Linked DNA regions of Homo sapiens. The protein of the gene in region 1 purifies or fractionates together with the protein of each later gene. This does not show direct contact. Each region holds a gene or a part of one and is shown in the gene's direction. Other genes may lie near its edges.

Region 1 (4,386 bases):
CATCCGTGGTGGCAGAGGTTGGGTGTTGGAGACGGTTGCTCCGGCAGAGCTGGCCAGAGCCAGGCAGGTACCTCCAGGTCCTGGATGCCGGCCACAGCCAGTTTCCTGACACGAGGACACCCGCCTGGGCTTTTGGACCCCCGGGTGGAATGAAGGAGAGAATGCGGAGAAAAGCGGCGGTGGAGGCTGGCGACAGTGGGGCCAGGCTAACCACCATGCGGTTTTCTCAGGGCGACTATGAGAACGTCATTCCAGATTTTCCAGAAGATGAGGGGATTCATTACTCAGAGCTGATCCAGTTTGGGGTCGGGGAGCGGCCTCAGGCACAAGAAAATGTGGACTATGTGATCCTCAAACATTGACACTGGATGGGCTGCAGCAGAGGCACTGGGGGCAGCGGGGGCCAGGGAAGTCCCCGAGTTTCCCCAGACACCGCCACATGGCTTCCTCCTGCGCGCATGTGCGCACACACACACACACACGCACACACACACACACACACTCACTGCGGAGAACCTTGTGCCTGGCTCAGAGCCAGTCTTTTTGGTGAGGGTAACCCCAAACCTCCAAAACTCCTGCCCCTGTTCTCTTCCACTCTCCTTGCTACCCAGAAATCCATCTAAATACCTGCCCTGACATGCACACCTCCCCCTGCCCCCACCACGGCCACTGGCCATCTCCACCCCCAGCTGCTTGTGTCCCTCCTGGGATCTGCTCGTCATCATTTTTCCTTCCCTTCTCCATCTCTCTGGCCCTCTACCCCTGATCTGACATCCCCACTCACGAATATTATGCCCAGTTTCTGCCTCTGAGGGAAAGCCCAGAAAAGGACAGAAACGAAGTAGAAAGGGGCCCAGTCCTGGCCTGGCTTCTCCTTTGGAAGTGAGGCATTGCACGGGGAGACGTACGTATCAGCGGCCCCTTGACTCTGGGGACTCCGGGTTTGAGATGGACACACTGGTGTGGATTAACCTGCCAGGGAGACAGAGCTCACAATAAAAATGGCTCAGATGCCACTTCAAAGAACCAGTGAACTCTTTTCAGTCTGTGGAGTCAGAGTGGGGATGAGGAGAGGGGAAAGTCTTCATGGGGCCTGGGGGGAAGGAAATGGAGTCACAGTGGTTTACTGATCAAACCAGCAGATTAGAGAGTCTGGTGTCTTGTTAGGAAAAGCATACTGGCTTTGCAGACAGACAAACATGAGAACTTGAATCTTGATTCTTCGGCTTAACTAGCCCGGTGATCTTGGCAGGGCTCGCCAGCTTGCCTGAGTCTCGGCTTCTCCATCTGTAAAGTGGAGAGGGAAAGGCCACTGCCTACCACGCAGGTGGCCCACGATAGGAAGTGAGGCATCGTCTTCTATATGCTGGAGCCACATTGAGACCCAGCACAGAAGCCGAAAGTCCCCCAGAAAACCAACCTCCATCCTTTATTTGCATTTTTCGAAGAATGTGAAAAGGGGAAGCCGATTCAAAACAGCTCTTCCCAAAAGTGACGCTACCCAATTCTTGCACAACCCATAGCTGCCAGAGAAAGTCTTGAAGACCAGCCACCCTGAGAAACCTCACAGCTTTTCTGTCATTCGAGGTCCTCTGCACCCGTTCTCTAATTCTGTTCACTGATTCAGACTTTCCAGTTAGGTGCCCCAGCTCCCCTCTCCGCTTCTCGGGTTTGATCTTTCTCCACCCATTCACCTGCTTCTGCAAAGGGGCTAAAGCCCATTCTCCTTAGAGGGCAGGGGTGTAATTATCTGATCATCAGGGAGATTGGCTCCTGGCACGTGGCAGGTGTCCCCAAACTGCCACCTTCCTCTCCCACCTTCCTTTCCCTCCCATCTCTGCTCAGTACCCGGACGGTAACTCTAGGAATTATGGTTCAGGGAGGCCTTGATCGCCCCATCAATCCACTTTGTCCCTGGTTTGATTCTTGTGAGCACCATTAACTTTTCTGGAGGAAGGTGAGGCTTTAAGAACTGTTTAAAGCCCAGGCGTGGTGGATCACGCCTGTAATCACAGCACTCTGGGAGGCCAAGGTGGGCAGATCACCTGAGGTCAGGAGTTCAAGACCAGCCTAGCCAACATGGTAAAATCCTGTCTCTACCAAAAATACAAAAATTAGCTGAGCGTGGTGATTCACACCTGTAATCTCAGCTACTTGGGAGGCTGAGGCAGGAGAGTCGCTTGAACCTGGGAGGCGGAGGTAGCGGTGAGCCGAGATCACGCCACTGCACTCCAGCCTATGCAACAGAGTGAGACTCCGCCTCAAAACAACAACAACAAAAACTGTTTAAATGAGACAGGAGGGTGTTGGGGTGTCTGTGCCCAAAATGGGGTCTGGTGTCATTCAACTCTTTCTTCATTCATTCTGCACACAGATACTGAGCACCTGGAAATGCACCCAGTACAGAGCCAGTTGTTAGGACACCAAAAAGATAAGGCGTAGGACCAACCTTGGGGATCTCTAGTCGAGAGCCGCCAAGGGTTTTTAAGGCAAGATACCCTGGAGGGAGCTGAGGCAGTCCTAAGCCTGAAGGGCCTGGCTTAAGCTCCCTGGCAACCATCGAGCATCTTCCCCTTCCCACCCTGTCCCTCAGCACAGCTGCTGACATAAACCTACTACATGGCTGATTGACCATGAGATATGGCCATCAATAGACATTGCTGAGGCGTGAAGAGCAGGTGAAGAGCAGGTGGCCAGGAAGCTAGGGGGCCAGGACTCCAGACGCAGGCCGCCCTCCACAACCCCAGCTCTCACAGTCCTCCCAGGGTCCAGACAATGGATCGTGCATTTAGGTTCCCAAACACCTGCTGTGCAACGTGTAGTAGACAAAGCAGACCAAAGCCTTTGCCCTCAGGAGGCCGGCATTCTAGCTCAGGAGCCAGCCAAGACGATGTCGCACTGAAGAAAGACAACAAAAGTGAGATTCACAGGAGGGATGAGTGTGGCTGAGGCACCCGGGAAGGCCCTCGGAGAAGGTGACCTTGGGCAAAGATCCAGACGCCAGGTGGGTGGGGCCAAAGCAGAGAAGATCTGGAAAACCCAATGGCTCCCCAGGGCTTCGCTCTTGCTGCAGGAGGGGAAACCACACTGCTGTGGATTCTTCCTCCATTCTGTCCATTTCTCAGTTCCCAACAACACACTGAACAGTAGGAGGCCAGTTCTCCGCTCACAGCGGGCGCTGCACCCCAGGTGCTGCTCTCGAGAAAAAGGCGAGCATGGACCAATTTAGTGGCTCCGAGGTATGAAAAGCAGTGAGATGGTGTCTTTGAGGGAGTTAGTGATAGGCTGAGACCCCCTTGCTGTCCCCCCTGAAGCCTGGTGACCAGAGCTGCCAGGAGGCCACACAGAGAGAGGTTTATGATGGGGGACCTGGAATTCGGAAGGGGCAGAGTGGTCAGGTGACCCATACACGCCTGAGAAAACTGATGTGGAGAGCTGTGTTGTCATTCTGAGGCAGGAAATAGAGACAGACTGACAGACAGACAGAAAGACACGGGCACATTGAGAGACAGAGACAGAATCACAGAGCAGAGCTGGCTTCTCACCAGCAGGCGTGGGCACACCTGAGAGAGCATCCAGAGAGGTTAGAAATCTTCCTTAGGTCCTCCTGGGAGGCTCAGGTGACCCCAGTGGGAAACATGAAAGGCTGGGAGGACTTCCAGGGCTGAGAGAAGGAAGCTACGCAGCCGGCCGGTGCCACATTCCCTGTGCCTTGGGGAGTGTCCCCCAGTGTCCCCAGCCATGCACCCTGGGGGGAGTCGGCTTGGACATCTGTGCCACCCCTTGACAGGCAGAGTGGGGGCCACAACCTGGGCCCTCCAGTGCTGGTCAGCAGAGGCTGCCCCCGCCCCTTGCCTTCCTCCTCCCGCTCCTTCCTCCAGCCCTGGGAAGGTCGGAAGCCACCACCATGGGGCTAGTGCGGAAGCAGAGGGAGAACAGAGGGGCCCTCCTCGCAAAAACTAAAACAAGCCCACAGCCTGTGCAGAACCGCACCCGGGTGTGATCACTCCTTACCCCACACACCCACTGCCACTTGGAGATGGCTTCATGGCTGCAGTCACAGGGCACCCTGTGTTGTCAGGGGTGAGCCAGTGAGGCCCGGGACCTGCCCAGGGGTGCATCAAGGGTGGAGAAGACCTGGCCCCAGCGCAGGTGTGAACAGGCAGGAGGGCTGGGGAGGGAATAGCGCTGGGTTGTGGCCGAGCCCCCAAGCCCTGCTCTTGAGAGGCACTGGCTACACACTCGGCCCCTACCCAGACAGGACCCCAATTCCTCCCTGGCCCCTCTGTGTTCCTGCATCTTCCCAGCCCCTCACCTCCTCTGGCGTGGCCTCACCTCCAGCCGGGATGCCCCATTAGCTGCTCACCCAAGCTGCTAGAACCTCAG
Region 2 (3,840 bases), on another chromosome or scaffold:
CTGAGGGGATACTCAACTACTTTGAGTGTTTTTGTTTTGTTTTTTTAAAGAATAAATTTATTCCTTACTGCTAGCAAGATCTGCATTGTTTTAAAAGAGCGATGTAAATTATTAATGGATTCCATGAAATTTAAAGTATCTAAACTTAAGTATTACTCTGGGGATAGCACAGTAAGAAAACATGAGTATGTAAAAACATGATGGTGGCTAAAAACTTAACAGTCTTATGTCCTGGGAGAGGGCATGGTGTATTGGATAAAAATGTGGGCTTCAGAGCCATAGTGATTTTGAATTACAGCTCTGTCACATACCAGTCTTGTAGTCTGGGTTAAGTAAGTCACTGAACCTCTGAGAGCTTTTTTATTTGCCAGATAGAGGTGATAAAGGGTACCTTAGAGAATTGTAAGGATAAGAGTCTGAGTGAAGGGTAACTTATTATTTGTTAACTTAGTAACATTGAAGATATTCAAAACAAGTCAGATGTGTGTGTGGGGTGTGATTGATGATTGCTCTTTGTTTTTTTGTTAACTGGAACAGCAGGCAATAATGTTATATTCAGGCTTTTTATGTCCAAAACAATCTATGATTTTGTATCTTTAGTAGCAACATCCTCAAAAGCTCAAGATGTTAACCTCATGTATCTCCGATATACATTTTATGTATATTTTAGTTTTTCTCTTTGTGTCTCTGGTGTGTTTGCAGTCTGTTTTCTCTCCCATCTTGTTACTGTTACCCAATGTCTCTGTCTCTGACCACCTTATAAAATTTAAAACTATCTGTAATTGTATTTATTTTATAGGACTTTATATGCATTATTTTCATTTAAAAATTCTGATTAGTCAAATATTTCTACTTTTTTTTTAAAGAAGACTTTGAATTATATTTCAATTTTGTGACCTTTAGATTTCTTTAAACATGGAATCCTAGTCACTGGTTCCTTATAGACCGAAGATTTTTCTTTTTTTTAAATTTTATTTTATTTTACTTTATTTTTTTAGACCAAAGATTTTTCATTCATCTCTAGATCATGCCTTAGCTTCTTAAGTCACCAGTTTTCTAAGCTCATTTACAATTTTCATCTGTAGTTTCCTTGTTTCTCCTTTTTTTAATGTTTATGTTTCTAATTTTCCTAAGCACAAAAGATAGAAACCTATTTAATGCTAATTATAATAAGTAGATTAGTATACTAAGTAAAATGTAAAGTACAATAGGCAAATGACATAATTTTGTCTGTAGCACTTACTTGAAAGACTAGACTAACCTAGCACACGCTTAATTGAAATATTTAATGGGTCTTTTTGATATGAAAATGTACTTTTCATAATTGTCAGCACTGCCTTAGAGTTAGTTGAAGAATAATTTTAAGCTAACCCATGGTTTTCTGTTCAGTGTTTGATGAAGAGAATAGAATAAGCTCATTAATTTAGTCAGATTCAGAAGCATCTTAAAGAGTACCCCCCGCCCCAATCCTTTCTAATCTCTGGTGCGGCCCATAGTGACTCACTATTCTTCATGTTCCCTTAATAGTTGTGGCAATGATAAGTTATTGTAGTGTATAAGAGTTGTGATTTTATAGGTAGCAAGGAAGGGGGCTTGGTTAGGGCCTCTTGGTTATGCCTTTAGGACTGTGTTGGTACTTCTAACTATTTAATAGTGTTTTAGTTCCTGTACATGCCAAACACAGGGCTGGATGCTGGGGAGACATCGATGAATGAGTTCTTCTCTCTTACACATACACAGTCCAGCAGGTAAACACTGTGCTGTTGCATTGCACAAGTCCAGAGGATACCATTCACGTTGTATTCTTCAGGAATATGGCTCCTTGGCCTGGCCTAGGATCTCTTTCAGGTGACAAAAGTTCAGAATCTCCATCACCTACAAGATAATCTGTATTGTTTATCATGTCTAACAAGACCCTTCCTTATAATCTGATCCTGTCCTATCCTTCTAAACCTCCATTTGTAATTATTCCTCAAAGGCTATCACCCCGTGCACCAGTCAGTTTAAATAACTTGTTTTCCTGGCATTTTTTAGGATCTCTCACTATAGTACCTCTGCATGTGGCAGTTCCCCTGCTTGGGTTTCATCTCTCTATTTTCTCCCTAACATTTTTCCTCTTACTGCTTGTTTGCTTGATCAAGTTTACATCCTTCTGGTCTTAGATCAAGAGATAGTTCTTTTTTGAAGTCTTTTCTGTTCTTGGTTCTCTCTTTCTCCCTGGTGCCATTGGTCACCATTTTGTTTGATATTTGTTTGCTTACTTATTTGTCTAGCCTACTAGATGTGGTTCCTTAAGGTTAGAAATTTAATCTTGTAACCTCCAGCATTTAGACCACTAGTTGGCACATGGTAGGCAATACCATTCTAACAAATGAGTTTTTATGAAATCAAATTGGCAATAAACCAGAATGATTATTGCTAGAATGCTAATTTAATATTTACAGATTTATCTGAAAAATTAGGATACTTGACAACATCTTGGTTTTCTGATTTAATTTACCTTTTTCTAGTCAAGCAGTAGTTTGGGGTTAGATTTCAGGGAACTGCTTGGCTAGAGTGAAGACACTGTTTTAAGTTCATTGGTGAACATGTTGGTGAGAACTTTCTGTCTGCTGAAGAATTAACCATAAGTGGTCTCAAACTAAAACAAAGACACAGAGGTATTCAACCCAAGAAGAATGGATGATCTGTAGGATGGTAGTGTCTGCCCCAGCTCTGTCTCTACCTGTAGCACTCACTGCAGCTAATCTGTAGGAGTGGATGAAGTGAGGTGGAAACACTTCTGGGGGGCCCAGTCAGGAAGAGACTCCTAGATGCTTCTGGGCCAGTCTTTCTGTGCGATAGAGTGTCCACTCCCCATATCCTCTCCATACTTCTTTTAAAATTTTGTTTCTTAGTGATTCATCTTAGGTTAACAGCTATGAGAAGCTGTCACTAATTTATGTGTTAACTTCTGAACAGAAGGATCCTGATTAAGAGGAAGAGGAAGGGTTGATCTGAAGAACATAGTGCTGTGGTGGAGGTTGTGTAGAGTTCCATGAGGTCACTAAGGGACCTGGGAACACAGGATATTGGGAGAGCTGGGAAAGGGGAATAGGGATGAGATGCGGGAGCATGCCAAAGACAAAATTACTTTGTTGTCAAATTTTGCCCACAAAAAGAAGAGGGATTCCACCCCTCCTTCACCCAGTCTTGCCCTGTCTCCTTTATTCAGCTGCACTGCTGGATGCTTGCCTGGTTCCCAGCCTTTAAGGTTTTTAGTCTATAAGTTCAACGTTGTTGGAAAAGTGCTCTGATACCTGCAGAGGTGGGAGAAAGGTGGGGGCAGTCCTCTGCTAGGAGATGGAAGGGACAATCAAAGCTTAGTAGCTTGAGCTGGTCCTGGAAGAGCAAGTAGGAGCTCTTTAGCCAGACTAAGAGAAGGGCATTCTTGGCAGAAGGAATATTCTATATAAAGAAGTGGAGTCAGGGAACAGTAGGGCTCTTTGAAGAACTACAGATTGTGTTCTAAATGAATGACATGTAAGGTTTGTAAGGGGCGAGTGATAACCACTGATGAATGGCAGATGGTGTTGACAACTAGGCGGGGCCAGAGTCTGTAGGATCTTACATGTCTTGCAATCAGTTTTGACTTTGACCTTGGAACCCAGTTGAGGCTCCCTTCCGCCCCAGTTCCTCATGGCAGGGAAATACATCATGTTGTGCGTTGTAAGACTTCAAAACTTTGCTAGTGAGAGGCCTGCTTAATATTATTTAATCTAGTTCAATTTAATTGTTTTGAAAAAAAAAAAAAACAACAACTTACTTTGAAGGTACTCTTTTACCAGTTTGGGAATTGCT
Region 3 (2,973 bases), on another chromosome or scaffold:
TTATTTAAATCCTTTTGTCCATAGAGCCAAGTCCCTCCTGCCCGCAGAGGCAACTGCCCTCCCCTTGCTGTGCGTCTTCTAGTGTGTGTGCGTGGGAAAGGTGCAGCACTTTCTGTGTACGCCTTCCGCGTATGGAAGTGGAGTTCTGTTTCAAGCCTCACTGACCTGCCACCGGCAGAACTCTCCTTTAGAACCCCTTCCTGTTGCCAAGTGCTCATCTGGGCTGTTGCTTTGTTTTCCGGGGGCCACCCGCATCCCCCCCGTCTCCCTGCTGCCACGCACAGCTAGTGGCTCCTGGAGACCTCGGGAGGAATTCCTTGTGCTAAACCCAGAGAGGAATTGCTGGGTCAGGCATCAGCCTCTGCACCGTTCACCCTGCCGGGCTCAGCTGCTCCTCAGCAGACAACCCACCACCAGCCATGTGGCCCCATCTCTCCCACCATGCACTAGGCTTTCTCCCACGCTTGCCAGTTTCACAGCACGAGCTGGCCGTGTGGAGCTTGGACTCGCCCTTCTCTGACTGTGGATTTGAGCTGTTGGAGTTTCTTCTCCCTTGAGTTGCCTGTTCAAATCCTTTGCCCATTTTTCTATTGTGGTTTTTGTATTTTTCTTTTTCTTCTTTTTTTTTTGAGATGGAGTCTCGCGCCATCGCCCAGGCTGGAGTGCAGTGGCGTGATCTCGGCTCACTGCAACCTTCGCCTCCTGGGTTCAAGCAATTCTCCTGCCTCAGCCTCCCGAGTAGCTGGGACTACAGGCACGTGCCACCATGCCTGGCTAATTTTTGGTATTTTTAGTAGAGACGGGGTTTCACCGCGTTAGCCAGGATGGTCTGGATCTCCTTGACCTTGTGATCCGCCCGCCTCGGCCTCCCAAAGTGCTGGGATTACAGGCGTGAGCCACCGCGCCCGGCCTGATTGTCTTTTTCTTAAGTTGCAGGAAGTCCACATATATTTTAGCTATTTAGCCTTTGTAACCTTTAAACACTGGGGATGCCTTCATGCTTTCTGGTGAGGGTCTGTTAACTTGGCGCGTGGAGTCCTTCACTGCACGGAAGAGCAGAGGTTTCCCTGTTCACCTGCTCTATGGTCTGTGCTTTGTGAAAACACCTTTCCCTGGCCCTGGGTCCTGCCTTCACGTTCCTGCCTTTTCTTCTATCAGCCTTCTAGTTTTGCTTTTCAGAATGGAATGTTTCCGTTTTGGAGTCAGGTAGGATCACACATGTCCAGTTTCTCTTTCTGTTCATGACGTATATGATGTGACATATTTTTCCACCAGATATTATGGGATAGAAGATGAAAAGCACACACTCCCAGGTCCACTTGACCTGTTGCAGTGGAACCTCCGGGCATGGGCCCAGGAGTCTGTATTTTTAGTAAAAGCCAGTGGAATCCCGTGGTCTTCAAGCTCTCCCCCCACCACCCCCATGTGCAGAAATGCCTGGGCACCCTTGGGGGGCTGCCGGCCAGCGTGGGTGAATGGCGCCCACCAGACGGAGCAGGGCCTGCTACTCTCCTGGGCCACCCCTCCTGCTGGACCTCGGGCCTGCCTCCCTGCCTTCCCTGCCCTTGGCACCTTGAGAGGAGAATTTGAGTACTAGAATTTGCATCTGGGAGTGTCCACCACGGGATCTTCCAGAAGCCCAGGGGTTCGGGCCCCACTCCTGGCATGAAGAAATAGCTTGGGCTGGTGTCAGGCCGACCCAGGTCCTGGCTGTGTGGCCTCGGGCGCGTCACTTAACCTCTCTGAGTGGCAGTCACACCATCCTGCGTGGGATTCAGACTTGAGCCTGTCCCAGGGCCCCTAGCGGGGTGGGCCTCCGGGGAGGGAGGGAGGGAGGGAGGGCGGGCGCTGGGGCGCGGCTCAACCCTTCAGTGCCCCGCAGGCGGCTGTGCGTGGCGAGCAGTGGACGCCCATCGAGCCCAAGCCCCGGGAGCGGCCGCAGATCGGAGGCACCATCAAGCAGCCGCCCAGCAACCCCCCGCCGCGGCCCCCGGCCGAGGCCCGCAAGAAGCCCAGCGAGGAGGAGGCTGCGGTGGCGGCGGGGGGACCCCCGGGAGGTCCCCAGGTCAACCCCATCCCGGTGACCGACGAGGTCGTGTGACCTCGCCCCGGACCTGCCCTCCCGCCAGGTGCACCCACCTGCAATAAATGCAGCGAAGCCGGGAGCGCGTGAGCCTCTGCCTGGGGCCGGTGGGCGGGGCTGGGGTAGCGATGGTTCCCGAGGCCTGGGCAGGCACCCCGTTTCCTGCCAGCCGGGCCGCATTCCAGTTTCATTAACATCAGCATCGCCTTCCTTCTCAGCAGCACACGAAATCCCGGGTACCGTATATTCCACGAAATATAGTACCTGGATTCCAGGTGTGTGCCTCCCTAGAAAGGTCCTCCCGGGCCTGGAGGAGGCAGCAGAGTCCTCCCTTGACAGCTCCTGCAGGCCCTGCAGGCCCTCCACACCTAACGCCTCCCTAAGGGGCTTGGATTCCAGAGGAGGCCGCTGGCGTTAAGTGAAAAGGGAACAGGGTCGGAGCCACGTGGTGAGCCTCTACCCTGCGCCTCTTTTCCGTAGAAGCTGGGGTGAAGCTGGTGGCGGATGTGGCCTTGTTTGCCCCCACACTGATGCTGGGGGGCCCCCCAGCTGCCCAGGACGCTCAGGCCAAGTTGCAGGGGCTTCTGGCCACCCCTTCCCCTCACTTGTGCGGAGGCTGTGGCTGGCTGCACACACACCTGCCCACAGGTCCTCACCACCACCCCAGCCCGGTGCCCCCAAAGCTTTGCCCGGCGTCAGCCACGTCCCCCACCTTTGGGCTCTCGCCAAGGCACCCACTCCCCTGAGGCCGGAGAAGCCCTTGCCTGCTGCTTGTCCACCTGCTCTCCCAGCAACTCACACTTCAGAGCCAGGGTCCTCTGTTCCTGGGGGCCTTCAGAATCCACCCCCCACCAGCCAACACTCGGCACCATACAGACGTCTCAATCCAG
Region 4 (4,560 bases), on another chromosome or scaffold:
GCCCACATCCAAACCTGCCTGTCCCAAACCACTTACTTCCCTGTTCACCTCTGCCCCACCCCAGCCCAGAGGAGTTTGAGCCACCAACTTCAGTGCCTTTCTGTACCCCAAGCCAGCACAAGATTGGACCAATCCTTTTTGCACCAAAGTGCCGGACAACCTTTGTGGTGGGGGGGGGTCTTCACATTATCATAACCTCTCCTCTAAAGGGGAGGCATTAAAATTCACTGTGCCCAGCACATGGGTGGTACACTAATTATGACTTCCCCCAGCTCTGAGGTAGAAATGACGCCTTTATGCAAGTTGTAAGGAGTTGAACAGTAAAGAGGAAGTTTTGCACACCCAGTTCCATAACGTTGTTGGATGTATGAGCCAGGCAGGGGTCCAGAGACCACCAGCCTGCAATCCGGAGAACCCAAGCTAGGCGCGAGCCGGTGCTGTGATCCCGCCAAAGGAGAAGCTGCCTTCCCGGGGAAGGGGCAGAGAGGGGCCGGCGGGCTGAGGCCAACCAGCGCAGAAAGGGCCTGGCAGCCATTACTGTAGCGCTGGCGGCTCTGTCACGCCCCTGAAGCCGCTGGCCCGCGGGTGTGTTCAGCTCAGGAGCGGCCCTGCGTGTTTTTCCCCCGTGGCCGTCGCGGACCCCCGTCTTCCAACAGTGGTGCGGGCGGGGCGCCCCGTCCTGGGTTCGCGGCATAGCCCCGCCCGGGCCCCCACGCGGAACAGAAGTAACGGACCCTTTTTTTTTTGTTTTTGTTTTTGAAACGGAGTGTCGCTCTGTCGCCCAGGATAGAGTGCAGTGGCGCGATCTCGGCTCACTGCAACCTCCGCCTCCCGGGTTCAAGCGATTCTCCTGCCTCAGCCTCCCGAGTAGATGGAACTACAGGCACCCGCCACAATGCCCGGCTAATTTTTGTATTTTTAGTAAAGAGGGGGTTTCGCCATGTTGTCCAGGATGGTCTCGAACTCCTGACCTCGTGATCCGCCCGCCTCGGCCTCCCAAAGTGTTGGGATTACAGGCGTGAGCCACCGCGCCCGGCCCCGGACCCTTCTTTATTGGCCTCAAAACGGGTCATTTTGGGAAGCGGCGCGGGGCTGGCCGCGCTTCCCTGGGCCCCGGCCCTCCCCATGGTGTTTACGGGGAGGCGAACGGGGAGCCCAGAGGCTGCGAGCCTGGCCTGGACCCAGGAGCCAGGGGTATCCCACAAGTCCTGGAGGCTCTGAACGCGGCGCTGACGCCGAATACCTGTGAAAAAGACTCGGGGAGGAGACCCGCAGACCGCCGAGCTTCTGCCGCGGGAACCGCGCCCCCGGCCCCGCAATGCGCCTGCGCCTCGCGCGCCGACTTCCAGTCCCAGCAGGCCGCGGGCGGGGGCGGGGCCTCCGGGGAGAATTCGGGGGAGGGGCGGGGCCTCCGGGAAGCAATCAGGGCAGGGGCGGGGCGTCCGGGGAGTGGGGCGGGGCTCCCGGTTCCAGGCGAGTTCGCAGCTGCGCGCCGGGTCCTGGAGGCCGAGGCCGCTCCCGCCCGTTGTCCCCGCAGTCCCCGACGGGAGCGCCATGGCCCAGCCGCCGCCCGACGTGGAGGGGGACGACTGTCTCCCCGCGTACCGCCACCTCTTCTGCCCGGACCTGCTGCGGTGAGCGGGGCCTGGGAAGCGAGCGCAGCCTTGGTGCGGGGTCCGGTCCGCGGGCGCCGGCGCCCCCACGTGGTCCCCGAGGGCTCGCGTGTTAGGAAACCTGTCTTGCCTGGCTCCTTTCTTTCTTTTTTCTTTCTTTTTTTTTTTTTGAGACGGAATCTCGCTGTGTCGCCCAGGCTGGAGTGCAGTGGCACGATCTCCGCTCACTGCAAACTCTGCCTCCCGGGTTCAAGCGATTCTCCTGCCTCAGCCCGGCTAATTTTTATTTTTAGTAGAGAGGGGGTGTCACCGTGTTGGTCAGGCTCTTTTCGAACTCCTGACCTCAGGTGATCCACCCGCCTCGGCTTCCCAAAGTGCTGGGATTTACAGGCGTGAGCCACCGCGCCCGGCCCAACCTGGCCTCTTTCTTAACAGAAAATTTTAGGTTGAAATCATTTTTCCGGAAGACCCAGAAGGCCCAGGAATGCCAGGTTTTGCCCAGCAGCTCTTCATTTTCCTGCAAACGCCTTGGTGTTCACAAGAGAAGGCAGCCCGGGCAAAGGTCGATCCTCCCCGGTCACCTGCCCTCACTCGGCTAATGGGCGGATCCTTTTTTTTTTTTCCTTTTCTTTTTTTCAATTGGCAACATTTTCAAGTTTCTATTAAAATTTTGATCTTTTGCCAGGAGCAGTGGCTCACGCCTGTAATCCCAGCTCTTTGGGAGGCCGAAGCGGGTAGATCACCAGAGGTCAGGAGTTCGAGACCAGCCTGGCCAACATGGTGAAACCCCGTCTCTGCTAAAAATACAAAAAATTAGCCGGGTGTGGTGGCGCACACCTGTAATCCCAACTACTTGGGAGGCTGAGGCAGGAGAATCACTTGAACTCGGGAGGTGGAGGTTGCAGTGAGCCGAGATCGCACCATTGCACTGGGCAACAAGAGTGAAACTCCATCTCAAAAAAAGAAAACAAGTTTTAAATTATGTTCTCCAAGGACAGGTATTGACAATTCTCTCTGAGTGTTCTGCAGGAAAAAAAAAAAGTTTTTTTTCGAAACGGAGTCTCATTCTGGGTTGAAGCAATTCTCCTGCCTCAGCCTCCCAATTCTCCTGCTTCAGCCTCAGTGCGCCCAAGTGGGACTATAGGCACACAATACCACGCTGGGCTAATTGTATTTCTAGTAGAGGTGAGTGTCACCATGTTGGTCAGGCTGGTCTGGAACTCCTGACCTCAGATGATCCACCTGCCTCGGCCTCCCAAAGTGCTGGGATGACAGGAGTGAGACGCTGCACCTGGCCCAAAATTAATCTTTAATAATTAAGAATAGGAAAGGCAACTTGGAGATCAGCAAAAGTTTGCCATCCATCTGGTACAGTTTGTGCCAGTCATACCGATCAGTACACATTTAATGCGTACAAGAAAATCTCTAATAAATAAAAAAGCCATATTATCCCGACGTAGCTTGCTGAATCTCAGGTATCATATTTGATATTAGTGCCATGCAGGGCTTAGGAGAGAGGAAATTATAACCTCTATCTTGTTTAAGCCAGGGTATTTTTCTCTCTTGTATCTACTTCTGTCCATTTCTGTCAAAAGACACAGAAATACCCTTTCCCCCACTGCACTTTGCAAGTTTGTGTCAGCACAAGTTCAGGACCAGCCTGAGCAACAAAACGATACCCCTCTCTAGAAAAACTAGATGAAAAATTAGCTGGGCACTCTGGCATGCACCTGTAGTCCCAGCTACTGGGGAGGCTGAAGCAGGAGGATCCTTCTAGCCCAAGAGGTCAAGGCGGCAGTGAGCCGTGATGGTGCCACTGCACTCCAACCTGGATGACGTAGCAAGAACCTGTCTCAAAATAAATAAATAGGCCCGGTGTGGTGGCTCATGCCTGTAATCCCAGCACTTTGGGAGGCCGAGGTGGGTGGATCACAAGGTCAGGAGATCGAGACCATCCTGGCTAACACGGTGAAACCTCATCTCTACTAAAAATACAAAAAATTAGCTGGGCGTGGTGGCAGGTGCCTGTAGTCCCAGCTACTCTGGAGGCTGAGGCAGGAGAATGGTGTGAACCTGGGAGGAGGAGTTTGCAGTGAGCCTAGATCATGCCACTGCACTCCAGCCTGGGCGACAGAGCGAGACTCCATCTCAAAAAAAATAAAAAATAAATAAATAAATTAAATAAAATACTATAATTTTATGAATTTTCATTTTATTTATTTATTTATTTTTTAAGACCATGTTTCGCTCTTGTTGCCCAGGCTGGAGTGCAATGGCGCAATTTTGGCTCACCACAACCTCCGCCTCCTGGGTTCAAGTGATTCTCCTGCCTCAGCCTCCCAAGTAGCTGGGATTACAGGCATGCACCACCACACCCGGCTAATTTTTTATATTTTTAGTAGAGACGGGGTTTCTCCATGTTGGTCAGGCTGGTCTCGAACTCCCGACCTCAGGTGATCCGCCCGCCTTGGCCTCCTAAAGTGCTGTGATTAGAGGTGTGAGCCAAGGCACCTGGCCGAATTTTCATTTTAAATCATTGCCGTATAGCAATATGGGAGGTGTATTTTAACAGGGCTCTTTTATTTTTTATTTATTTTTATTTTATTTTATTTATACATATTTTTTGAGACGGAGTCTTGCTCTTTTGCCCAGGCTGGAGTGCAGTGGTGCGATCTCGGCTCACTGCAACATCTGCCTCCCGGGTTCAAGCTATTCTCCTGCCTCAGCCTCCCAAGTAGCTAGGACTACAGGCACCCACCACCACGCCCAGCTGATTTTTGTATTTTTAGTAGAGACGAGGTTTTACCATATTGTCCAAGCTGGTCTCGATCTCCTGACCTTGTGGCCCACCCACCTTGGCCTTCCAAAGTGCTGGGAGCCACCGGCCCGGCCCAATAGGGCTCTTTTAAAAGAGCCTCCTTTTTTATTCTCAGGGACAAAGTGGCCT
Region 5 (4,429 bases), on another chromosome or scaffold:
GAGTGCAGTGGCATGATCTTGGTTCACCATACTCTTCGCCTCCCATGTTCAAGCGATTCTCCTGGCTCAGCCTCCTGCTGGGATTACAGGTATGCACCACCACACTTGGCCAATTTTTGTATTTTTAGTAGAGACAGGGTTTCACCATGTTGGTCAGGCTGGTCTTGAACTCCTCACTTCAAGTAACCCACCCACCTCGGCCTCCCAAAGTATTGGGATTACAGGCGTGAGCCACCACGCCCGGCCTCTATTATGTTTTAATATTTCGAAGGGGTAACTTCCCCTCATTGCTTTATTTTTTTATTTTTTGCTGCTTTTGTTTTTCCAAATAAACTTTATAATCAACTTGTTTAGGATCTCAACTTTATTTTCCAAACAGATGGTATTTTTTATTAGGATCGTATTAAAATTATAAATTAAAGGTAAGGTAAATTTACATTTTAAGTCATTTTTTATTGTGGTTAGATAAACATAAAATTTTTCACTTTAATCATTTTGAAGTATACAGTTTAGAAGCCATTTTTTAAAAATAATTTTTATTTTTTAGAGACAGGGTCTCTGTCATCTAGGCTGGAGTGCAGTGGTGTGATCATAGTTCACTGCAACTTCAAACTTGTGGGCTCGAGTGATCCTCCCACCTCAGCCTCCCAAATAGCTAGGACTACAGACATGTGCCACTACACCTGGCTGATTTTTTTTTTTTTAAGCTAGTCAAATTTAGCAGTGGGGACATTGTATACCAACTTTAGTGATGCCAGTGTTAAGTTCTGATAACTCATTACCATCAGACCAGCCTTGGCTAATTAAAAAAAATTTTTTTTGTAGAGACAGGTCTTCCTATGGTGCCTAGGCTGGTCTCAAACTGGTCTCAAGCAGTCCTTCTGCCTACACCTTCCAAAGTGCTGAGATTACAGGCATGAGCCACTGCACTCTGCTAGAAGTCATTTATTTTTAATCTTTCTAAGGTAATAGGTAAAAATGGTATCTCAGTGTTTTTTTTGTATTTTTTATTATTTATTTATTGAGACGGAGTTTTGCTCTTGTTGCCCAGGCTGGAGTGCAGTGGCACAATCTGGGCTCACTGCAACCTCCACCTCCCAGGTTCAAGCAATTCTCCTGCCTCAGCACCCCCAGTAGCTGGGATTATAGGTGCATGCCACCAAGCCTGGCTAATTTTTGTATTTTTAGTAGAGACAGGATTTCGCCATGCTGGCCAGGCTGCTTATCTCATTGTTTTAACTTGAATGTCTTTCCTTACTAAAGAAATTGAATACCTTTCCCATATGTTTCTGTTTTTTTTTTTTGAGATGGAGTCTCGCTTTGTCTCCCAAGCTGGAGTGCAGTGTGCAGTCTTGGCTCACTGCAGCCTCTACCTCCTGGGTTCAAGGATTTTCCTGCCTCAGCCTCCTGAATAGCTGGGATTACAAGCACTTGCCACCATGCCCAGCTAATTTTTGTATTGTTAGTAGAGATGGGAGTTTCACCATGTTGGCCAGGCTGGTCTCGAACTCCTAACCTCAAATGACCCACCTGCCTCAGCCTCCCAAAGTGCTGGGATTACAGGCATGAGCCAATGCGCCTGGCCGTCCGATATGTTTTTTAACCACTGGTTTTATTTCTCTGGTGATTTGCTGTTTTAATCCTGGGCACTTAGCCTGATAGAATTTCCCATGTTTGAATATTTTATGTTAGATATACTGGAGTGCTTGTTAATAGAGAGTTTTGTTTGATAATCTGCTATCTGAATCAACTTTTGTAGTACAATATTAGTAAGGATCTTTAAGTAATATTAACTACTTTATTGTGGAACTGAGGTAGGGCCACTTAAACCCTAAAGCAGATTTCCTGCCTGGAGAGGCAGTGCATTCTAATGGTCAGTAGCAGGGACATTGAAGTCAAAATATGTAAAGTCCTTAAAACAGAGCTTAGAATATAATAAGCACTGTATTTATGGTTTGATTTTGTTGTCTTGAGCTGATACAGTAAGAAGAAAAATGGAAGAATTAGTGGGATAGATTGATTCTTTTATAAAATTTAAAAGTATTGATCCTCTCTCTTTTTTTCCCATTTAGGTGTGAAATGTTTCTCTTATTCTACGAGTCTGATTGGCCTTACATTTCTGCCATACATTTTTACACAAAATAATGCTATTTCTGAAAGTGTGCCTCTGCCTATTCAAATCATATTCTATGGCATCATGGGAAGCTTTACGGTGATCACCCCAGTGCTGCTTCACTTTATTACAAAAGGCTATGTCATTCGATTGTACCATGAGGCCACAACAGACACTTATAAAGCCATTACCTACAATGCTATGCTTGCAGAAACGAGTACAGTGTTTCACCAGAATGATGTGAAGATTCCAGATGCTAAACATGTATTTACCACATTTTATGCTAAAACAAAATCACTGTTAGTTAATCCAGTGCTCTTTCCAAACCGTGAAGACTATATCCATCTAATGGGTTATGACAAAGAAGAATTTATTTTGTATATGGAAGAAACCAGTGAAGAGAAACGGCATAAAGATGACAAATGAGCCTATTTGTTAGTGTTCGTGCTCAAATGTGATTTACGTTTTAATGTATAATAATAAAATTGCCTTTTGCATTCCGTTAGTGACTGATTGTTAAAAATAATTTGAAATTATCAAAGCTTTTAATTTCCAGAGAATGATGTTTGTTTATAATAAAACAAGCTATGTTTGAAAACCAAAATGTAGTATCTACCATTCGTGTTTTAGAAAGGTATGTGAATAAATATGTTCATGCTAGTATAAGAGTTCTGTGTTACTGTGGTTGACTCTAAACTGGGGATCTGATGTCAGTAGCAAATGGGAGAGTTGCTTTATTCTTTGTGTATGGATTTTTCTAAGTGTATAAATATTTTCCGACATTAAAAGACATTTTCTCTTTGAGGAAGACACAGTCATAGGTGGTGCGGAGCTGTGGTCCACCTGCTCCTGCTCCTGACTCACTGCTCTTTGCTGTTGCCTGAGGACCAAGTCTGTCAGGAAGCTGGCTAGGAAGCCTTGCAGCAGCCATGGCTTTTAAACATACCAGAAAAACACCCGTGGAGTCAGAGGTGGCAATTCACCGAATTCATATCACTCTAACGAGTTGCAACGTAAAATCCCTGGATAAGGTGTGTGCTGACTTGATCTGAGGAGCAAAGGAAAAGAATCAGTGAAAGGACCAGTTTGAATGCCTACCAAGACTTTGAGAATCACTACAAGAAAAACTTACGGTGAAGGTTCTAAGGCATGGGATCGTTTCCAGATGAGAATCCACAAGCGACTCATTGACTTGCGCAGTCCTCAGATAGTTAAGCAGATTACTTCCATCAGTATTGAGCCAGGAGTTGAGATGGAAGTCACCATTGCAAATGCTTAAGTCAACTGTTTTCATAAATTGATTACCAGTTGTTAAAAAATTTTCAAAAAACCGCAAAATTTCAAGAAATTCACAAATTATGGGAGCAGTTTTAAGTCTTCTTTGGTTCAGAACACAGGTTTTTGCCTAACCCCTGGCATGATTGCCCATAAGAACATACATGTACAGTTGAACTGGTGGTTAGCTATACGGGAAATGGTAAGTAGTGTTGTCTTCAGTATCTTAATTTGTTTCTGCAACTGTGCACTCCTCCCTTGGTGGCACCCTATGGGTGTAGGAAAACCACTGTTATTAAACAGGTGAAAAATACCTTGTGTAAAATTGCTGTCTCTATGCTAGCTTTGTCAAGAATATCCATTGTAAGATTTTTACCTCTATTGTAAAGTGGAGATTGACTCTTGCCAAGGATTTTTAGCCAGGAACAAGAGGCCTCAAACCACACTATTTAGATCAGTAGATATTTACTAAGTGCCCAGTACTGTGCTAGTTACTAAGATCACAGTTAAGAATGAAACACCCCGTCTGTCTTTATGGAGCTACCTAACATTGTCTATGGCCACCATGATAGTAAATTTAAACTTTATGGCGTACATGTGTATGAGGGAGGTTGATGGGGAAGCAGCAGGAACATCTGTTCAAAGAGATCATTCAACTCCCAGGCTGCTCGAAACTTATTCATAGGAGATAAGACAGAAAAGCTGTCTTTCTGAGACGTAGAGCCTGCCCTCTGCTTGGATTGTCCAGCTCACCAGACTGAGAATTCCCACCGCCATTCCTCTGTGCCATCTTCTGCTCAAGGTGGGTTTTTGCCTGCTTGCTTCTCTGTCCTTTGTCCCCTAGATGTATCCTAGCAATGAATGAGAGATGTGTTTCTATTTTTTTCATAGCAACCTACTAGATAAGGGAAGCTTGTCCAGCCTGCAGCCCAGGACGGCTTTGAATGTGGCCCAACACAAATTCGTAAACTTAAATTTTATTTTTGAGATTTTTTTTTTAAGCTCATCACTATCATTAGTATATTTTATGTGTGGCCCAAG
Region 6 (3,833 bases), on another chromosome or scaffold:
CTATGGCCCAGTCGAATTAATACCCTTTTTCTCACTGAGAGAGGAACACGTACTGCCTGTCATAACAGCATTGTAATGCCAGTGTCTCAGTAACAGAATCCTGGTGGGTGTTAATTGGGTGTTTTTTGCCCTGGAGAATTCAGATTCCTTTCTATACCTCCGATTCTGCCCAGAAGAGGGGGGGAATCACCAGTGTTACAAAATTAGAAGATTGTTTTGCCTGTTTTAGACTGAATATTTGAACACTGCAGCATTACTAGCCACCAGTGTTAAAGGACAGATGAGGGGAAACATTTGTTTTTAGCAGTAATTCCATGCCTCATCTTTTTTAAGTGATTTGTTCCAAATGAAGCCATTTATTGACTTGATGTTCACAAATATCATTTGAAGAAATAACAGGAATTGGGGTTAGATGATAAATTCTAGGGAATCTAGGTGATTTGGAGGATTTCATTTGTTTTGCATTACAGCTAGTTGCTCTCACTAAAGGTAAATTTCCGGTGAAATAACTCAGGTTTAACTAGCTGTGTGCCCAGAATCACTGTTCCTTCATACATGTGTCCTCTCCTTAAATTCATTACTTTCAAATGATGTTCAAAGCATTGACTATTTTCATTCAAAGAAACTACATTCGGCCGGGCACGGTGGCTCACGCCTATAATCCCAGCACTTTGGGAGGCCGAGGCGGGTGGATTACCTAAGGTCAGGAGTTCAAGACCAGCCTGGCCAGCATAGTGAAACCCCATCTCTACTAAAAATACAAAAATTAGCCAGGCGCAGTGGCACACCCCTGTAATCCCAGCTACTCGGGAGGCTGAGGGAGGAGAATTGCTTGAGCCCGGGAGACAGAGGTTGCAGTGAGTCAAGATCATGCCACTGCACTCCAGCCTGGCCAACAGAGCGAGACTGTCCCCCCCCCAAAAAAAAAAGAGAGAGACTGCATTCAAAGAGGACCAAGACTACAGTGAAATTAAAACTGTTTGCTGGCTGGGCATGGTGGCTCACACCTGTAATCCCAGCACTTTGGGAGGCCGAGGCGGTTGGATCACCTGAGGTCAGAAGTTCGAGATCAGCCTGACCGACATAGTGGAACCCTGTCTTTACTAAAAATACAAAAATTAGCTGGGCATGGTGGCGGCACCTGTAATGCCAGCTCCTCCAGAGGCTGAGGCAGGAGAATTGCTTGAACCCAGTAGGTGGAGGTTGCAGTGAGCCACAGTTGCGCCATTGCACTCCAGCCTGGGCAATGAGTGAAACTCTGTCTCAAATAAAAAAATAAAAATAAAAACTATTTGTTGACTTTTGTTTTTCATTTAGTTTTGGAAAAGACTATTTGCAAAAGTACAGAGTTATCTTCAGCAATTACTTCACAACTTAGATTGGTACCAAGAGTGACAGGAGATCTTGTCTTGGAAGATCATTATTAGATGCCAACAAGGAGACCCACTGTGATTTCTGGTAACCTATTTGGGGAAAAAGACCTAATGACCTAATATGCAATTTCTGTCCTCGTGTCTTTTTCTCTAACACACAGTCATGGGTGAAACATTTCAGACACCTCAGGCAGCACTTATGGTTTCTAATTGTGAGAACTACCCTTCCATCAAACAAAAAGGGCAAGGGTGGGAGCCCCGGCTACTTGGTTAAACATTTTTTACTACAAATTCGCCCAGAAAAGGTGAAATATTTTGTTATAAAACTGTATTAAGCATGGCCTAAGTATTTATTAGGTATATGATCTGTGTAGTATGTTCCATCAGAAATATTTCTTACTAGTGCTTTAAGCTCCAGAGTAAACAGTCATTTAAAATGGAGTTCACTGGGCAGGTTTCCCCTTTAATCTAGATAGAAATACTCTTTATCAGAGATTTAAGGCACTGTTTTGCTAACTGGTAAATAAAACCAAATGTAAATATGTAAGAATGTTTATTTGTTGCACATAACTTTTTTGGTATAAAATAAATGTAGAAGTTACCTGTGGAAGTTGTGCTCCCATTATTCTTAAACTGCAGGGTTGCATTCCAAAAGAACTGAAACGAAGTCTTTTTAGACTCAGTAGGAGCCTTATATTCTTGAAGTCAATACTGTAACCTCATTTCTAAGGTATACAGGGTTGATTCTTTTTCTCTTAAATCATATGTAACTTGCAGAAGATTCAGAGTCCTCAGACCTCTAGTTCTTGGAATTCCTGTAGGTTTACGGTGTATGTGATTGTCAAGAATTAATGACAAAAATGTGTCACTGCCTACAGTTCTGTGAACACTCAGAATGTATTAATGAGCTGTTTTTCCATAGTTTTACTTTAGCTTACCTTGAATACTCCCTGTATAATCCTCTAAAAAGGTAGCATCGGCAAGAAAGATGAATCCGTTGGAAATACAGCTGAGCCATACTTCACGGAATAGAACAAGTGTGTTCTGTGCTGGAGCTCAAGACCTGTGGAAAGGGACTGCCCCCACTGGGTGCAATGGCTCATGCCTGTAATCCCAGCACTTTGGGAGGTAGAGGCGGGTGGATCACTTGAGGTCAGGAGTTCAAGACCAGCCTGGCCAACATGGTGAAACCTGCCTCTACTGAAAAATACAGAAAAATTAGCCAGGATTGTGGTGTGCGCCTGTAATCCCAGCTATTCAGGAAGCTGAGGCAGGAGAATTGCTTGAACCAGGGAGGCGGAGGTTGCAGTGAGACGAGATCACGCCACTGCACTGCAGCCTAGGCGACAGAGGAAGACTCCAGCTCAAGAAAAAAAACAATGGACTGCCCCTAATTTGTAAACCATTTAAATGTGTCTATTACATTTAACTTTTCTTAATGTTTGTCAACTAAAAGTTTTATTCATTATACTTTGACATACTGGAACACAAAACTTGATTCCTTTGAAAAACTAAAGAGAAGTTGATAAAAAAAATACAGAAGCTCTAGATTCCTAATTGGAACTGACTACACTCATTTTTAAAAAATGGACGATGCCTAATAAAACCACATGAAATTAACTTTATTCTTTCTTTCATGGAGCTTGCACAGGAAAGCTAAAAAGGAGGGTCTGTGTGGAGACACGGGGCTCAACCACAAGAGAGGGGAAAATCAAGTTCTATAGCAAGAACCATATTGGAGGCCGGGCACAGTGGCTCACGCCTATAATCCCAGCACCTGGGGAGGCTGAGGCGAGCAGATCACCTGAGGTCAAGAGTTCGAAACCAGCCTGGCCAACATGGTGAAACCCCATCTCTACTAAAAATATTTTTAAAAATTTAGCTGGGAATGGTGGCAGATGCCTGTAGTTCCACCTACTTGGGAGGATGAGGCAGGAGAATTGCTTGAACCCCAGAGGTGGAGGTTGCAGTGAGCCAAGATTGCGCCACTGCACTCCAGCCTGGGCGACGGAGCAAGACTGTCTCAAAACAAACAAAACAAACTGTATTGGTTCATTGTCTTTCAACTGACTGGACACCAAAAGGAGTATTTTTCCAAAGCGTATACTTCAAATCAGAATTGATGCACCATCCTTGCCTTACTGGAGCCCAGGAAGAGAGGGAGGACAGATTCCTTAAGGAAAGACTGTGCTCTGGGAGGGGGCAGGTAGCGTCATTTTGGGGTGTAAAGGCATGGAATGCTGATTTGTAGGCAAAGTTGTTTAAGGAGGTCCTGTCACATTCAGTGGCATCCGTTATGATAAAGCCAATAGGCTTTTACACTCATCTGTCCATTTCTGTCAAGACCCTATGGCTGAGGTCAAAACAATGTTCTGGGAGAACCAGTTACCTCTAACCTTCCAATTCAGACACTGCCAGCTTAACTATGTAGAAACTGGCACACAGACCCTGTTAAGTGCT
Region 7 (4,530 bases), on another chromosome or scaffold:
ACTGTTGGGCCATTCATTTGCTCATTTGTTTATGTGACAAGGATGAGGACCTACTTGGTGCAGAGAAGACAGGCCCAGTAAGAGGAGGGCTGGCTTGAAACAACTGCAGGTCCTTGAGAGACCAGAGGTGCTCGGGAGGTGGTGAGGAGCAGGTTGGGAGCCTTGTTGCAGGAGATGAGTGAGCCAGGGGAAGGCAGAGCGGCAGTGTCAGTGAGGCACACAGGGGAGGAGCAGACTCTCCCATCCCCTGCCGTGGCCCTTCAGTGGCCTCCTATCGCTGGGGAGAAAATCCACACTCATACCCAAGGATGGCCTGGCCGGCTTCATCTCCTCCTAGTTGCTGGGTGTGCCACCCGCCAACTCCTGCAGTTCCAGGAATGGGCAGGGCTCCCTCCCTACCAGCTCCTCAGGCACATTTTGTGGGCAGGGTTTATGGGAAAATGTCGGGGAGGAGGGCAGGGGGTTACTACAGGCTACTGTATCTGTCCCAAATCAGGGTCAGGTTCTACCTGAAGATAGTAGTGTTAGCTCTGAGTTCATTCCAGACCCGTTTATTTGATTCTAGAAACAGTTCCTATCAAAACCTGCTCTTTTTTTTTTTTTTGAGACTGAGTCTTGCTCTGTCGCCCAGGCTGGGGTGCAGCGGCGCGATCTCGGCTCTCTGCAACCTCCGCTTCCTGGGTTCAAGCGATTCTCCTGCCTCAGCCTCCCGAGTAGCTGGAACTACAGGAGGCACCACCCCGGGCCAATTTTTGTATTTTTTAGTAGAGACCGGGTTTCGCCATGTTGGCCACACTGGTCTCGAACTCCTGACCTCAGGTGATCCACCCGCCTCGGCCTCCCAAAGTGCTGGAAGTACAGGCAAAAACTGCTTTTGAAACGCGTCCTAGCGTTTCTGGACAGCACCGGCCAGGAAGTCAGGAGGCTTGGTGCTGCTCCTGCGCCTGCCCTCGCCCCAAGTCCTGGGCTTCGGGATCCCCATGGCAACCCCAGGTCCCGCTGGCTGTGAGGCTGCGGCCGGAACCCGGTCTTCCCGGCTAGGAGCCCGCGGGGGGCGACCCCCTGCAGGGCTTGGCCTGCTGCGGGAGGAGGGCTCGGGGAAGGGTGCGAGCCGAGCCCGAGGCGCACGGCGAGTCCTGTGGGAGTGGGGGACGCGGGGGCGGCCCTGGCTCCGCCGCGGCACCTGGACCTCTACTTTCCGAGGTGAGCATTTGGGGGTCGAGGGCGTAGAGCGATCGCACCCTGAATGGAGCCCAGGGCAGCCAGCGACCTGTCCCGTGGCCCGCAGTCGTTACCGTTCCGGGGCGGCCGCCTAGGCGGGTCCCGACGCGGCCCGCGGGAGCTCGGGGTGCCCTCGCCCGCCGCTGCCATCTTGCCGCCGAGGGTTCTCTTAGCGACCAGCAACGCCCGCTTCCATTGGTCTTTGTCGCAAGGGGGGGTGTGGCCACGGGCCTAGTCCCTGAGCCCGCGCAATCTCTGGAGCGAAGCTAGCCGGGCCCGGAGCCAGAGGACGCAGCTGCGCCTGTGCGCGTTTCCGCCGCTGTCGTCTCTTCCGCCGGGAGGCCCGCCCGCCAACGGCCTGCGCGTCTGCGCCGGAAGCGGAAATGGTTGGAGCCCTTGGCCCCGCCCTCGCGCCATCTTGGGGGCCCTGGAGGCGGCGCCGCGGAGGACGGAGCGGAAGTGCTCGCTGCAGCTTCCCGGAGCCGGAGCGCAGCGCCTGCGGCCGCCCGTGCCCCGCCGTCCTCCTTCCCGCGGCCGTGAGGGAGACCGCGGCTCGGCCGTAGCGGAGCTGCGAGGTGCCAGGAAGGGCTGCGTGGCGCGGGAACGGCCGGGCAGCGCCGCCTCCGCTTCTTCCGGGCTGTCAAGGCCGCGGGCGGGCGGGGCCGCGCTGAGGGCCGGGCGGGGAGGGCCGTCGGGGCCCGGGTGGCCGCGGGGACCGTGTTCCCGACCCGCGGCCCTGAGGGGTACGGGTCGCGCCTCGGGGTCGGGCCCGGGACGGGGTGCTGGGGGGTGCGGCGGAGCCCTGGGGCCTGCGAGGGTCGGGGGAGCGGGAGAGGGGCCGGGCGGGGGCTGCAGCCCTCGAGCCACCCGGGCCGCATCTCGTCCGCATCCCCTGCTTGGCATCTGGGGGAAGCGGGCAGTCGCGGCCCCCACAGCGCTGCGAGTTGGGCTGTATTCCAGAGTAATGTGCCCTGTCCCCATCCTGCGTCCAGGTCAGCGCTTATCTGTAGGATTTAGTGTTAAGCTCTGGGGTGAAGGCGTTACTGACGGGCTGAAGGGAAACTAGTTACATCGGTTTTGATCGTATTCTAAATAGGCAATAAAATCATAAATTCTCCAGGCTGACTTAGTACTGGTCTGTGGCCCCACTGATAAAGGTATCGTTCGTTTCTCTGCCAGGTGTCTCACAGCACAGAGGGCTGCTTTCAGCCTAAGTACCTTCAGTGGGCTTTTGCCCTTTTCCCTTTATGAAGAGTAGAGACTGGCCGCTAGTCCTGGAAGCACTTTATTTTTAGTTGAGTTGACATTTCCCAGGAAGATGCAGTTATCCCCGTAAGTGGATAAAGGGTTCTCAGTAATTCAGACTCTCACATGGCTTCTGCCGTATGCCTGAGGTGACGGCGACGGCGGTAACAGTGTGTCAGAGCCAGGTGGAGATATAAGATGGTCAGGCCCAGAGGAGCGGGGAGCCCAGGCTGGAATGTGGCCTTGGGAAGGAGGAAGAGACGGGGTCTGGGAGGGCATTTCAGAGGACTGAACAACACCAGAGGCGTGAAGCTTGGTGCACGGCAGCCGGGGGCTTTCTTAGTCCCGGAGGAATTGGGGATGGGGACGTGAAGAGAAAGGTGGGAGCCAGACTGTCAATGCTCCCGGACGCCAGGCAGAGGACTTCATCCTTTCCACGTGCAGAGTGATGGACCACAGATGTGGATGAATGTGACGGGCCTGGAACAAGGCACATAGAGAGTCTTACACTTTCTGGCACGTCCTCATGGTCTCTGCTTGGACTGGTTTTATCTCCCTTTCTGTTTTGTTTGTGACCAGGCATAAAGCAGTCACCTTCAACAGGTAATTGATGGGCTGTCTACTATGTAATGGACTTCCAGGTGGCAGGGCCCAGCCCCGAACCAGACAAGGGACCCCTCAAGGAGCTTCATTCTAGCAGGAGAAAATTGAGAAGTAAACCAGAAAGGTATCAGGAAACAGTTGTACACAAAATAAAAATAGGGTGATGTGATGTAAGGGACTGGGGGTCAGTGTGGGCGGTAACGGAGGCCTGTGAAGAGGAGGTGGGCTTCAAACTGAGCAGAGAAGAGGACTGCAGAGGGGGCAGCTGGTGTGAGGGCTGGCCCTGATCCAGGAACAGGGCTGGCACTGCCTTGCCCGGCTCCAAGGGTGCTCCACGGGCTGCCCACTGATTCCTCACGAGAGCCTTGTGGAGAAGGCATGAGAGGTGCTGTTGTCCCATTTCACAGACTGGAACCTGAGGCATCCTGGAATAGCCTGTCCTAGTCACACTGGCAGAGAGTGGTAGAGCCAGGATCTGAAAGCAGGCTGTTGGAGTCCAAAGTTCACGTTCTTGCTCCTGCCGCCCTGCCTCAGGCTATTCCTGGCAATGCGTTCAGTCAGGGTGCAAGCTGTGTTTGGTATACGTGTGTGTTTGGTATACGTGTTGTGTGTGTCAGACAAGCAGGATTGGCTGATGGCGTTTTGAGTAGGTTTTCTACATGTTCAGTTGGAGAGTGAGAAGTTCTGAGCTTTGCCTAGAGAACACCCTTTGGCGGGAGAGCTGGGTATTTTCTCCCTGACATTACTCTCATCACCTCCAGTCCAGTAAAAGTGCTTTAATGGGAAACAGTCTGAGTAAAACGGGGAAACTTACAAGGAGCTATAGGACGAACAATGTGACGGGTGGCTTTCAGATGGCCTGGCTTTGGCCTAAATAGGGTGGCCATTCCAGGTGACACATTTTAGTGTAGCCTCTATTTAAATATGGAGTTCTTTCAGTGGAGAGTAAAGGTGCTCCTCCTCTGTGTCTGGTTTACACGGCTCCGCGAGACCAAAGGGCCCCTCGGTCTCCTTGAGCAGCCTGGCACTCTGCACAGAGGATCCAGGAACGGTGTCATGGAGCCACATTCTGCACAGACTTGATGATGTGGAGGGAGCTGCCTGGATCACTTCAGCGCATCAGTTGTGATGGGAGAGCCAAGGCACTTGAGGGCGGGATTGCGTCTGGCCACCTGTTGCCTTCCACCTGAAGGGAAGATTTCCCCAGTGCTCACAGTGAGGATGGGACTGGAAAAGCGTTGGTTTCAGGAAGGTGCAGGTTCTGGCTCCTGCCCACTGCGAACATGCTGATGGGCCAGGGCAACTCTTTAGTCTTTGTGAGCTTCAGTTTTCTTATCTGTAAATGAGAACAATAAGACTGACCCCAACTGTTGCTGAGGAATGATGTCTTTGCTTTCATGTCTGGTATTTCTTAGAGCCTCATTTTACAGATGAGGAAACTGAGGCTGGCTGCGTGCTCAG

What was found.
Region 2: the proteins of FFAR1 (region 1) and ATP13A3 purify together in Homo sapiens (affinity purification with mass spectrometry; one large-scale study listed by BioGRID and IntAct). This does not show direct contact.
Region 3: the proteins of FFAR1 (region 1) and CYBA purify together in Homo sapiens (affinity purification with mass spectrometry; one large-scale study listed by BioGRID and IntAct). This does not show direct contact.
Region 4: the proteins of FFAR1 (region 1) and DECR2 purify together in Homo sapiens (affinity purification with mass spectrometry; one large-scale study listed by BioGRID and IntAct). This does not show direct contact.
Region 5: the proteins of FFAR1 (region 1) and TMEM70 purify together in Homo sapiens (affinity purification with mass spectrometry; one large-scale study listed by BioGRID and IntAct). This does not show direct contact.
Region 6: the proteins of FFAR1 (region 1) and VKORC1L1 purify together in Homo sapiens (affinity purification with mass spectrometry; one large-scale study listed by BioGRID and IntAct). This does not show direct contact.
Region 7: the proteins of FFAR1 (region 1) and RER1 purify together in Homo sapiens (affinity purification with mass spectrometry; one large-scale study listed by BioGRID and IntAct). This does not show direct contact.

Annotation. Positions count from the first base shown.
Region 1 is NC_000019.10:35,346,336-35,350,721, forward strand, and holds the start of FFAR1 (free fatty acid receptor 1), read left to right. Parts: upstream 1-1,566; 5' UTR 1,567-4,386. Other genes in the region: B-cell receptor CD22 isoform 1 precursor, read left to right, coding at 231-362.
Region 2 is NC_000003.12:194,476,721-194,480,560, reverse strand, and holds part of ATP13A3 (polyamine-transporting ATPase 13A3), read left to right. Parts: intron 1-3,840. UniProt on the Homo sapiens protein: ATP-driven pump involved in endocytosis-dependent polyamine transport. Uses ATP as an energy source to transfer polyamine precursor putrescine from the endosomal compartment to the cytosol.
Region 3 is NC_000016.10:88,642,481-88,645,453, reverse strand, and holds the end of CYBA (cytochrome b-245 light chain), read left to right. Parts: intron 1-24; coding exon of another isoform or gene 25-288; exon of another isoform or gene 289-1,882; coding exon 1,883-2,101; 3' UTR 2,102-2,165; downstream 2,166-2,973. UniProt on the Homo sapiens protein: Subunit of NADPH oxidase complexes that is required for the NADPH oxidase activity that generates, in various cell types, superoxide from molecular oxygen utilizing NADPH as an electron donor.
Region 4 is NC_000016.10:400,410-404,969, forward strand, and holds the start of DECR2 (peroxisomal 2,4-dienoyl-CoA reductase [(3E)-enoyl-CoA-producing]), read left to right. Parts: upstream 1-1,475; 5' UTR 1,476-1,554; coding exon 1,555-1,634; intron 1,635-4,546; coding exon 4,547-4,560.
Region 5 is NC_000008.11:73,979,083-73,983,511, forward strand, and holds the end of TMEM70 (transmembrane protein 70, mitochondrial), read left to right. Parts: exon of another isoform or gene 1-89; intron 90-2,072; coding exon 2,073-2,539; 3' UTR 2,540-3,701; downstream 3,702-4,429. UniProt on the Homo sapiens protein: Scaffold protein that participates in the c-ring assembly of mitochondrial ATP synthase (F(1)F(0) ATP synthase or complex V) by facilitating the membrane insertion and oligomer formation of the subunit c/ATP5MC1 through its interaction.
Region 6 is NC_000007.14:65,956,566-65,960,398, forward strand, and holds the end of VKORC1L1 (vitamin K epoxide reductase complex subunit 1-like protein 1), read left to right. Parts: 3' UTR 1-2,993; downstream 2,994-3,833. UniProt on the Homo sapiens protein: Involved in vitamin K metabolism. Can reduce inactive vitamin K 2,3-epoxide to active vitamin K, and may contribute to vitamin K-mediated protection against oxidative stress.
Region 7 is NC_000001.11:2,390,163-2,394,692, forward strand, and holds the start of RER1 (protein RER1), read left to right. Parts: upstream 1-1,678; 5' UTR 1,679-1,796; intron 1,797-4,530. Other genes in the region: MORN1 (MORN repeat-containing protein 1), read right to left, coding at 1,296-1,371. UniProt on the Homo sapiens protein: Involved in the retrieval of endoplasmic reticulum membrane proteins from the early Golgi compartment.